Linked DNA regions of Homo sapiens. The protein of the gene in region 3 purifies or fractionates together with the protein of the main gene of each other region. This does not show direct contact. Each region holds a gene or a part of one and is shown on either strand. Other genes may lie near its edges.

Evidence for each region.
Region 1: the proteins of PAQR3 (region 3) and AGFG1 purify together in Homo sapiens (affinity purification with mass spectrometry; one large-scale study listed by BioGRID and IntAct). This does not show direct contact.
Region 2: the proteins of PAQR3 (region 3) and RMDN1 purify together in Homo sapiens (affinity purification with mass spectrometry; one large-scale study listed by BioGRID and IntAct). This does not show direct contact.

What each region holds. Positions count from the first base shown.
Region 1 is NC_000002.12:227,534,357-227,538,255, reverse strand, and holds part of AGFG1 (arf-GAP domain and FG repeat-containing protein 1), read right to left. Parts: intron 3,412-3,899; coding exon 3,231-3,411; intron 1,632-3,230; coding exon 1,552-1,631; intron 1,356-1,551; coding exon 1,263-1,355; intron 1-1,262. UniProt on the Homo sapiens protein: Required for vesicle docking or fusion during acrosome biogenesis. May play a role in RNA trafficking or localization.
Region 2 is NC_000008.11:86,488,087-86,491,985, forward strand, and holds part of RMDN1 (regulator of microtubule dynamics protein 1), read right to left. Parts: intron 554-3,899; coding exon 466-553; intron 1-465.
Region 3 is NC_000004.12:78,925,681-78,929,579, reverse strand, and holds part of PAQR3 (progestin and adipoQ receptor family member 3), read left to right. Parts: intron 1-2,861; coding exon 2,862-3,059; intron 3,060-3,899. UniProt on the Homo sapiens protein: Golgi-scaffold protein which modulates its interactors acitivies by anchoring them to the Golgi apparatus. Functions as a spatial regulator of RAF1 kinase by sequestrating it to the Golgi apparatus.

The sequences.
Region 1 (3,899 bases), on a different chromosome or scaffold from region 3:
CACAATTAAAATATTTATTTGATGACAGCTGAGTGGATTAAATGAGGCAATGTACAAAAACCCATTGTATCATGAGACATTTTACAAACTCAGTCCACAAAATCAAAACAGTATGCTAAGAAACAGAAACACTGCACATATCACACACCTGATAAATTGTACAAATGGAAATTTAAAACAATCATTCATTAGGTACACTTGAATTAAACTTTTTTTAAAGTTAAATTTTGTGTGAAATTCCAATACTTATCAAACATCTATTATGCTACTTACCAACAGAGTATAAGTGAAGACATTTATGTGAAAAGAAAATAGTTACAGCTCAAACTCCTAATACTGTGATTCTTAATCTTGTCAATGACAAAGAGATTTACTAAAAACTAGTAATTCTTAATGGTTTGATTAAAATGTTACAAGTACCTAATCTCTCAAGAGTTCATATCAACATTTGCTATAACTGGAGTTTAGGCTTTAGTTCTAAATTATTGTGACATATACACAAAAACAAAGCATACAAACTCTAGATTTAATGGATACCCAGCCATACCAAATGCACCTGCTGACATTCCAAGATACTGGCAAATATCTCTGGTGTTTAAGGTAATACGACAAAAATCAGAGGTATAACATGAGAAAGATGTGAATGGCTTACAGTATGAATCAAAAAATAAAATGGAGACAACAAAGAGAATTAAGGGAAAAAATTATCAAAAGAGAAAATATTCAGTATTATACCCACGACTGAATCAAGTTTCCACAACTTAAAAAATGTTAACACCTGAAAGAGATATTCACTAGAAAAAGACCTAATAATTAAGAATTCATGTAGTAAAGTCATCTGATGCAATCTCATAGGGAAAATAAAAACTTCTCATAAAATGGTTCCATTAAGACTGCATGAGTGACAACCAGTAATTCTGAAACCAGACCACCAAATACATCTAAATTGCTCTGTTCAAGTCCTATCTCTGTCATAAACGTTCTGTGGAGTCTCATCTCCATGTCTGGGCTTCCCTACCTGAAAAATGAAAGCTTTAACTGGAAAGGGCAGACACTAGATAATTTCTAAGGTCCCTCTCAACTGTTAAATTCCAGGATTTTATGAACTTTCAGCTAGAATTTGTCTTTATGGACAAACTCTTCTATCCATTGCCATTCACTTCACTAAGAAAGAGGCCCCATTTTCTGGTGTTCTTCACATGGTGTCTTTGTTGATAAATGTCTTCCCCAAAACTTACTGTTCCACTGTCTCTTTTTCTTACCTGTTGCTCCTCTGGCATTGGTCTGAAATGGGTTTGTAGAAGATGCCACAGAAGGACCAGCAGCAGCAACAAATGGATTTGTGGAAGGCGTAGCTTTAAAAAATTATAAAATACACTATAAAATCCTAATACATTTTGTATTTAAGATTTAAATTATTTCACTATATTTATCAAGACAGAAAACTCAAGGATTCTGATAACAAATCATTGCTTTGACTCCTAAGAAAATGCTACACAATATATATTTGGGTTCTTTGTAAAAACCAGTGTATATACCAGAAGCACATACCTCCAAATGGAGCAGGCACACTTGATGAAGCAGGCTGTGTCTGTGCAGAAGCAACCACTGGCACTGTTCCAAAAACATTGCTGAGAACAAATATTGAAAGAGTTCATTTTTTTTCTTAAAAAAAAAAGAAAGTAACGATTTACAGGGTAGCCATAAAATAATGAACATATCGTGTATCACAGCATCAGTATCAACACAAAGAAAATTAAGACATTTAAGTGTAAAGATGTAATAAAATAAACAATTGTTACTGCTTCATTAAGAATCATCATAAAAAAATAAAAAATACAAGTAAAACTGAATGTGTAGTGGGAAGGAATATGACTATTGTAACGACTAGTACAGTTTGGTGCCACTATCTTAATATTCATGTTAAAACACCAGCAAAAACCATTATTCTAAGCAAACTATATCACAAGGACAGAAAACCAAACACTGCATGTTTTCACTCATAGGTGTGAGTTGAACAACAAGAACAACACATGGACACAGGGTGGGAAACATCACACTTGGGGGCCTGTCGGGGGTGGGGGGCTGGGGGAGGGATAGCATTAGGAGAAATACCTAATGTAAATGATGAGTTGATGGGTGCAGCAAACCAACATGGCACATGTATACCTATGTAACAAACCTGCACGTTGTGCACATGTACCCTAGAACTTAAAGTATTAAAAAAAAATAAAAAGACACCAGCAAGTTTTACTTGCCATTGTTTTCACACCATCAATGCAAATATCAATTAATGAAAAGGTAAACAATCTCTCAGAATTATTATAAAGAAAGTTTTAACCTCACAGACCCCATGAAAGGGTCTCAGGTACCCCAAACATTCCATGGACCACAGTTTGTGAACCCCTGATGTACTGTAATGTAATATCAATAAATCATGTATTATATATAAAGTATGTTTCCAGACTTTATGTTTCCGGAAGTGTTACAATCCTAACATTTCTTTCTAGAAAAGATGCTAAAGGAAAATAAGCTACCAGGATAACTAAAGAAATTAGTAAATACAATCCACAGGATTGGAAAACAGAGATGAATAAAACATTGTTATAGGTAAATCTCTTGTATTTCTGAGACTATTTCCGCAACTCTAAAATAAAGACTAGAAAAGTTTTTTACAAGTGTAATGTCCTAAAATGTGTTAGACTTCCTACTGCCAAGAATTCTAACAGATATATATGAACATAACAGCAGATGTGCTTATTTGTAAATATGAGGATGACACTGAAGAGATACAGAATTGATTTTGGGCTTTGGTGCAAACACTTCTAAAAATCTGTATTTACAACTAAGCCTATAATATGGGACTTTCACTGTTTAATCATCATGACTAAAAACTATTTTTAAAGTATATTATTTGACTACTAAATGGATTCTCTGCTGAGTACAATCTGTAAGGAACTGTCCATTTTGAGATGTGTACATGCTCTCAAATACGGTTTAGTGTTCAAGGACAGAACATAACAAAACGTCTGATTCAATGAAAAGATAAAATTATGGCAATTATTCAAGGATTATATTTTAATTAGCATTTAAATTCAAATTCCTCAAATTTACAAAAATATCCAAGAATTTTAAAATTATACCTTGAAACAGTCATTTTTTAATTGATTATTCAAAGTTGGAAAAAAAAGATAAAACACAAAGCAGGAGGGCTAGCTAAGACAAGGTACCTGCTAGCATTACTTGTGGAAGTATACGCATTACTGGAGGTGGCTGCAGAACTGAAAACGCTGTCTAGTTCTGCCAGAGCTGCATACTTGTCTGAAGATGCACTTGACTGACTGGGAACTGAAACCACAGAACCAACAGGAGCTTTACCTGTGGTCCCAAAGCCACTTCCCTGATCACCACCTGGGAACGAACAAAATCAAGTTACACCAAAAATTTAAAGTTACACTTTCAACTTATCAACCACATTTGCCATGAAACACAGGTAAACTTAAAATGGATTTAGAGTTAAGCAGGATTCCAAATCATTAATCTAATAAATAACCTGGACCATACTGGACAGGATTAGTTGTTATACATACCACTGTGATAAAGACAGAATATGTCTCTTAACAAAAATTAACACTCTGTACCAAAAAAATTTGTCTGGATTATGCATAAGAAAGAAACTCTCAAGTGCTCTTACGTTAACATCTCCAAGACGGGTGGATCTTGTTCACATGAACATATAAATTCATATAATGCTAGACCTAATGTGAACAGTCTATCAATAGCATCATTTCCCCAGCATTCTCCACAAAAAAATTAGAGATGGTAATAACGGGAAACATTTATTGAGGACTTACTATGTGCTAGGCACTGTTCTATATGCCTTAACATGCAATAATACT
Region 2 (3,899 bases), on a different chromosome or scaffold from region 3:
AGAAAAAGGGGGTATTTTTGGTTTCTCTGAAAGACTATCCTTCTAAAGTAATACACAGTTACCACTCAATGGTGGCATGCAACATCCTACATCTCAGTGAATTCATTTAATCTATACCAATAAAAAGTTACTTTAAAAGAAAAACAATGAGAAATATACAATATAGCTAGAAGGGATAAACATATATTCAATAACTATCTTGTATCATCTAAAGCAAAATGGAAAAATCAAAAAAAATTTCAACATTCCACTAAAGTAGTAACACCTTTTCTAAATCAATGAGATACATGCAGCATTTAACGTAAGAAACAAATAGTATATTATAAATTAAACTCTAAGAAATATTTTGAAGTAAAAACTACAATAATCAATTTTTAAAACCTCAAGCACTAAGGGTCATTTTAATTGTTAAATAACAAAAATTTTGAGGAAACCACAAGCCTAGGCCTATCCTACATTGCTTACCTTTCCTTGTATTGGGTTAGCAACTGATAAAGTTTTTCTGTTTCTCCGCTTTCATACAGGTAGTCTGCTTGTTCAAGTATTTCTTCAACTTCAAAGATTATAAAGGAAAAAAGACACAATAAAATAGGTCTTCCCAAGTCAGATGACAATAATTCAAAGAAACTTAAACACTTTTATATATAAGCAAATGAAATTAGATACAGAAATGACCTACAATGAAACAGCAGAAATTAGGAAGAACCTAGATGGAAACAAAGTAGAAATAAGCATAATGCTATCATAAAAAATGATTTATTGAAATCATGGGAAATAAAAAATTAGAAAACTTACTCTGGTAGTGACTAAATATGAAACACTAACAATAAATATAACACTAACGATAGCTGATGAGCTAAAAAAATTCCAAAAACTCTCATAATATTTTAAGAAAGTTTACTTATCTGTGTTGGGCCAGATTCAAAGCTGTCCTGGGCTCCATGTGGCCTAGGGGCCGCAGGTTGGACAAGCTTGCTCTACACAGTCTTTGTTGTTGCTGCTGTTAACTACCAACCATTGTAGAAAATAAAAGTCATCTACTTAAACAGCACTGAATGTTAGTAATTTGCATGAACCAAACCACACTGTTTTAATAAATTCTCTTTATACAGAGATGTTGTTCAAAGGGTCAGAGCTGTCATCAGAAATTTAGATGAAGCTAACTACACACTAAATCTGGAACTTACTGACACTATGCTCTGACTGACTCTTAAAACTAATTTATATATGACTACAAAATACATAAACATTATTGACAGTGTAGTGCCCTAAGAAAACTGTCTACTTAATGAAAAAAACAGTCTGAATTTCGGGAAATTCCAATTATTATTCAGAAACATGTACATTTAATTTTGTCTTCTATAAGGGTACTGTACTACTTAGTCCTAAGCCAAGATTCCAATGTGTATACACTTGGTATACTTTAATTAATCACAGTATACTTGAGGTTAAAAGGGTTTCTTGGCTGGGTGCGGTGGCTCACATCTGTAATCCTAGCACTTTGGGAGGCTGAGGTGGGAGGACCACCACGTCAGGAGATTGAGACCAGCCTAGCCAACATGGTGAAACCCCATCTCTACTAAAAATACAAAAATTAGCTGGGCGTGATGGCGTGCGCCTGTAATCCCAGCTACTTGGGAGGCTGAGGCAGAAGAATCGCTTGAACCCGGGAAGCAGAGGTTGCAGTGAGCCATGATCGCTCCACTGCACTCCAGCCTGGGCGATACAGCAAGACTCTGTCTCAAAAAAAAAAAGGGGGGGGATGGGGGTAGTTCTAGTTTTTAAAAAATTAGCAAAAAGAAAAATACAATGAAATTTGTGATGCAATCGTGTTTTTAAGTTAACATCATAATGTAATAATTATACTAGTTAAGAAATTAAATGACAATGGCAAAAAAAACCCCTAAAATTAAATAAAGATTATTTTTCTCAGTAATCCCACTTCATTCTGATTAGGTGTTATAAAGTTTAATAATATTCATATGGCTGGTTAATTTTTCAAATTTTGCTTCCACTCTATTCTATATTTTTATCGGATACGTGGCTGAATCACAAAGTTTGTGTTTTAACAACCCAAAGGATAAGGAGTAGTCTTTATTCTTTAGTTGATATTTATGGTAGGTAGAATAATGGCCCCCAAAGATGCCCCAATCTTAATCCCTGGAATCTGAATGTTTGGTTACATGTCAACGGTGAACTGTAGATAGAATTAAGGCTGCTAATCAGCTAATATTAAAACAGGAAATTATCCTGGATTACCCAGGTAGGCCCAATATAATTACAAGAGTCCTGAAAAGTGAAAGAGGAAGGCAAAAGTCAGAGAAGGAGTGTCAATGGAAACAAGATCAGAATGATGATTTGATGGTGGTTCTGAACATGGAGGAAGACACCTTCAGCCAAAGAATGCAGAAAGCCTACAGACACTGAAAAAAGCAAAGAAAGGGAATATTCCCTAGGGTCTCTGGAATGCAGCTCTCCCAATGCTGATTTTAGCCAGTCAGACCCATTTTTGGCTTCTGAACGGCAAGATACAGAACTAAAGAACCCTAAGATAATAAATTTGTGTTGTTTAAGTCACTGAGCTTGTCACAGCAGTGAAAGAAAATTAATATTAAATATATTGATCTGGCATATTTGAATGTGTACATAGTATGTATAAGTAAAAAAGTTACTTTTAAATATATTCATTGATTATTCTCTGACTTACTAAAAAGACTAATTACTGTCCTTAACATGATCCAGGAATTCTAAATCACATTACTCATGCGATTAAAAATGTAGAAATTGTCAGCCAGGCATGGCAGCTCACGCCTATACTCCCAACACTTTGGGAGGCTGAGGTGGAAGGATCACTTGACCCCAGAAGTTCAAGACCAGCTTGGGCAAGATGGCAAGACACCATATCTTTAAAAAAAAAAGTAGAAATTTAGTGAATAATCTAAATCTTTTTTGTGTGCATTCTTTTATAATCTCTCAAATAACTTAGCTCCAAATTACATAAATACTATAAGCTATAATATAATGGCTTTAAATATATATATAAATTTATTTATTTATTTATTTATTTGAGATGGAGTCTCACTCTGTCGTCAGGCTGGAGTGCAGCGGCACTATGTCGGCTCACTGCAACCTCTGCCTCCCAAGTTCAAGCGATTCTCCTGCCTCAGCCTCCTGAGTAGCTGAGACTACAGGTGCGCACCACCACGCCCAGCTAATTTTTTGTATTTTTAGTAGAGACAGGGTTTCACCATGTTGGCCAGGATGGCTTTGATGTCTTGACCTCGTGGTCTGCACTGCAAAAAATCAGTGTATGATTTTTTCTAAAATCAAACACTGTACAATTTATAAGAAAAAAGTACACTTCCTATGGTACTACAGACTGACATAGGCACTCGGGTGAGAGCTTGTAGACAACTCCACATATCCGCAAATCAGTTGTTTTCTAACCTAACATTTTATACTATCTTGAAAATATTTACAACTAAGTTACATTACTAACATAGAGACCATATTCTATAAAACAGACTAAACTTTTAATGTAAATTATTTTCAACTTAATAAGCAAATATTCTAAGATGAAATGACATGTTAATTCACCTAAAACTGTATAGTGAAATCTTAAATGTAACCTAAAATAGATATGTGCAAGATCATAATAATTAGAATTTTTTAAAGAAATGCCAATGATGTGACCTCCTACATATATGTTAGTAAACTTTGATTTTTTACTTTTCTAGCTGACTGTACTCTAGCCATGTGAGCAGTGTCAAGACAAGAATACTCCTCTGGCAAGATAAATAGCTATATTCCTGAGATTTCTCTATATAAGACTTAAGAAGTAGAAAATCTGAATATCTAGATTCAAGCCCCTAAGTAGCAGTAACATCATCAAAGTTTAA
Region 3 (3,899 bases):
TTCTGTCACTAAGTTCACACAAAAGTCAGTTTTTGCCTTGTGCAAAGCAGCATTTGCAACACTGTAATCAGATAATACAGCACCTGACCTAAAAATATTGGCCAACCAAACCTTACGGAGTAGAACCCTTAACTCATCACCTCATGTTCCAGCCAAGAAGACAAATTCAATGTTCCCATGGTTTCAGTACATCTCAAGTTCTCCCTTTCAGAAAGTCCCCTTCGACCCTACTTTGTTTTCTTCCTGTTTTTCTACCATGCCCTTGTTTTTTCTTTTGCCCTTTTAGTTACCTCCCTTTCAGAACCAAGACTGAGCTTCTCCCTCAGGAGCAGTATACCTACTAGTTATTTCTAGTCCTAGTTACAAAGAATAGAGCCTGTCCTGCCCAAGGCCCACCATGTAACAGGTGCTCTAAGGAAGGGGTCACCAACCCCCAGAAGCTGTCCGTGGCCTGTTAGGAACCAGGCCATGCAGCAGGAGGTGAGCAGTGGGCCAGCGAGCCAGGGAAGTTTCATACGTATTTACAGCCACTCCCCATGGCTCGCGTTACCACCTGAGCTCTGCCTCCTGTCAGATCAGCAGCAGCGTTAGATTCTCACAGCAGCGCGAACCCTATTGTGAACTGCACATGCAAAGGATTTAGGTTGTGCAATGTAATGCTTGATGATCTGTCACTGTCTCCCATCACCCCCAGAGGGGGACCGTCTAGTTGCAGGAAAACAAGCCCAGGGCTCCCAGTGATTCTACATTATGGTGAGTTGTATAATTATTATATATTACAATGTAATAATAATAGAAATAAAGTGCACAATAAATGTAATGCACTTGAATTATCCCGAAACCATCTCTGCCTGCCTCCCCGCACCATGATCCATGGAAAAATTGTCTTCCACAAAACCAGTCCCTGGTGCCAGAAACGCTGGAGACCACTGCTCTAAGGCACAGTCCCCAGACTTCACTTATTGGGAAGATCGGCCGCAGTGTAGAATTTCTCACATTGCTTGGGATTTTTCAGTAGGACCTTTGTCTCTACACAATAACAGAGAATACTGTCAACATATCTGGTATGAAAATTAGTGAAGAGAAAAATCATAAATTTGATTTGAATACGTAAGAACATTATTAATTTTAGCCACTTAAACGCGAGCCATTTGCTTTTTGCTTTTTAGGCCTAATCACTTTGGAACATAAGCACATAATTAAAAATATATGCAGGTAACCTTGTTGTAAATTGACTTGATTTTAGCAGTATGCTATTTATTTCTGCCCAGCTTTCATAACTTACTCATTTTGCATGAAACTGTTTATATCTTTAAAAAAAATTAGAACATACTAATAACCAGGTGCTTGTGAGTACAGCCATGTAATATTTGAATTGTTTTGCTTATCTTATTCTGTATTTCTCTGAAACTGTTTTCTGTTTACCTCTTGCTAAATGTCAAAGTGAGATACTTTTTGTAAATCTCTTACCAGAAAAACTAAAAGTCCAAGATAGATTAAAAAGATAAGGGAACTGCTGAAGCTGATAGAGTCAGTCCATGATCGTTGAAAAATTGCTTTCTTCCATCTGGTTTCTAATCATTTTCAAACACTCAGTTGCTGTAGACCTATAAAAGACTCGTTTTACCTTTTAAGGAACACAGCTGCTTTCAGAATGAGATTGGAAACTGTGGACCCTAGATCCAGTAGAATGCACTTTTGCGCACACCCTAAACAGTCTGACATTTGATTTCAGAAAGTTAATAGCCCCAAAGAAGTCCTTGGAGCCCAGATTAAGAACTCTTGTCTTACGTGACTTTTGACTTTAAGACCAGCTAACTGCTTATTTAAATACCTGCATATCCCATAAGCCCTTCAAACCTAAGCGAAGTGTGTGTTCTTTCATGCCCCTGTTCTCTTCCCCCATCACACACACAGCAAAACTGGAACATCTTTGTTCATTTGCTTCATTAATAGAAGCCATTTATGTGGCCTTTCAGGCCAAAAACAGTCAGGCTTTCCTCTACTGCCCTCTCACACAGCCAGTCAGCCATTAAGACTTAAGCTTATTTCAAAAATGCCTCCTAAATCTGGTGCTCACATCTACTTTATTCAACAGGAGTCCAAGCCCCCACTCTCTCTTTGAATAAACTAAACTAGTATCTTTCTAGCTGGTTTCCTGTCACCTATTTTCTGCACTGATGTCAGAGTTGTCTTTCTAATAAGTCTGTTTGAAAGACAGCCATGTCATCCTATTCTTAAAGAATTCTGTTATTCCTCCAGTGCCAGTGTGGTAAAGTTCAAAACATTTAGCCTAACAGTATGCCTTTTTAGCCTTTTTTCTCAAAACTTCCTGCTGCATTTGCTGTTCTCTTTCCTTGAGAGCTCTGTCTTCCCACAAAATCTTAGATGTCATCTCTGTGAAGCATTTTTTAGCTACCCCAAGTAAAGTTAATTGTTCCCTCTTCTGTGGTTCTACAATGTTCTGTTCCTCAATTACGGTATCTACCATAAGATTATAATCTTTTGTTCACATTCTGCCCCTCCCATAGTCTGTGAGCTGACTGCTGGGAGAGTCCATGTCATAGTCATCTTTGCTTTTATAGGACTTGAACTGTGCCTGGCAGATAATAGGTAATCAGAAAATGCTTTTGTATGAATAAATGTAGTATTTTACCAGCTCACTTTAGAATTTGGTTTGTCATTCTGACAAACCTAAAAGTTGTATGGAACATATTTTTTAATGAAGGGAGATAATCCTATTTTGAAATGCAAATACCAAGTAAATAGACTTTGGAATTTGTAGTGTAAAAGCCAAAATTACTTTTTCAGTTCCTTTATTGTTAATAACAGAATTAAAATGTGATTTCCTTTCATTCTAGTACTGGCGTCAGGTGTACTTGATCACAGTGCTTGCTATGATCCTGGCAGTGTTCTTTGCGCAGATTCATCCCAATTACCTCACGCAGCAATGGCAAAGGCTCCGTTCTATCATCTTTTGTTCTGTTTCGGGATATGGAGTGATTCCTACTCTTCACTGGGTTTGGCTCAATGGAGGAATTGGTGCTCCTATTGTACAGGTAGGTTGAGTGTAGTTAATATTTTTCTCTTTTTTTTTTTCCTTTCAATTTTATTCCTTTTGGGTAAAGTAGTATAATCAGGCCAAGTGGGTAGATGTTTGTCATTTGAGAACATATTTGTAATTGCATGTTGATGCCGTAATTTTCACAGCCATATAAATAAGCATACCTTGCAGAAGTCGAGGTAAAATCTGAATACTGATTTTCTCTGAGTTGTCTTTCTGTAAAAAAAAATACATTATTATTCTCTATTACCCTTAGTATATAAATACCCAAGTCCTTATTTGTGGAGGAGGACTCCAAAGTTTCTAGCTTTGTCTGCGGGATCAGTGATAATGCCAATGATAACGCAAGTATAGAAATAGGAGCAGTTGATCTTTTAGGGGGTGAAGGGAGGTTGGGAAGGATTTTTTTTGTTGGACCCGATGAGTGTGGGGTACCCATTGGATGTAAAGGTAGAGATAGGATCTGGGATTTCAGCCAGAGTTTGAGACTGGCAATAAAGATTTGGAAATCATCATTGTATTGGTAGCTGGAGCCAGGGAAGCATGTTCAATCCACCAAGGAGAATATATTGAGAAATAAAAGAAGAGCTATTTGTTAGAATCAGGTATTATGGGGGAACAGTTGATGTGCATTAGGAAGAGTCTCAGTGAGAACTCAGGATTCTTGAGAAAAGGATTAGAAATAAGACTTACATTTTTAGAGATCATTACAAAAATGCTGTACATATGCACTAGAGAGTAAACTTGAGAATTTTTAATACAAGTAAATAGGCCAAGAAATCTGACAGAAATCACATATACTCATTGCAATGGTACCTTTGTCTAGAATGTGTGA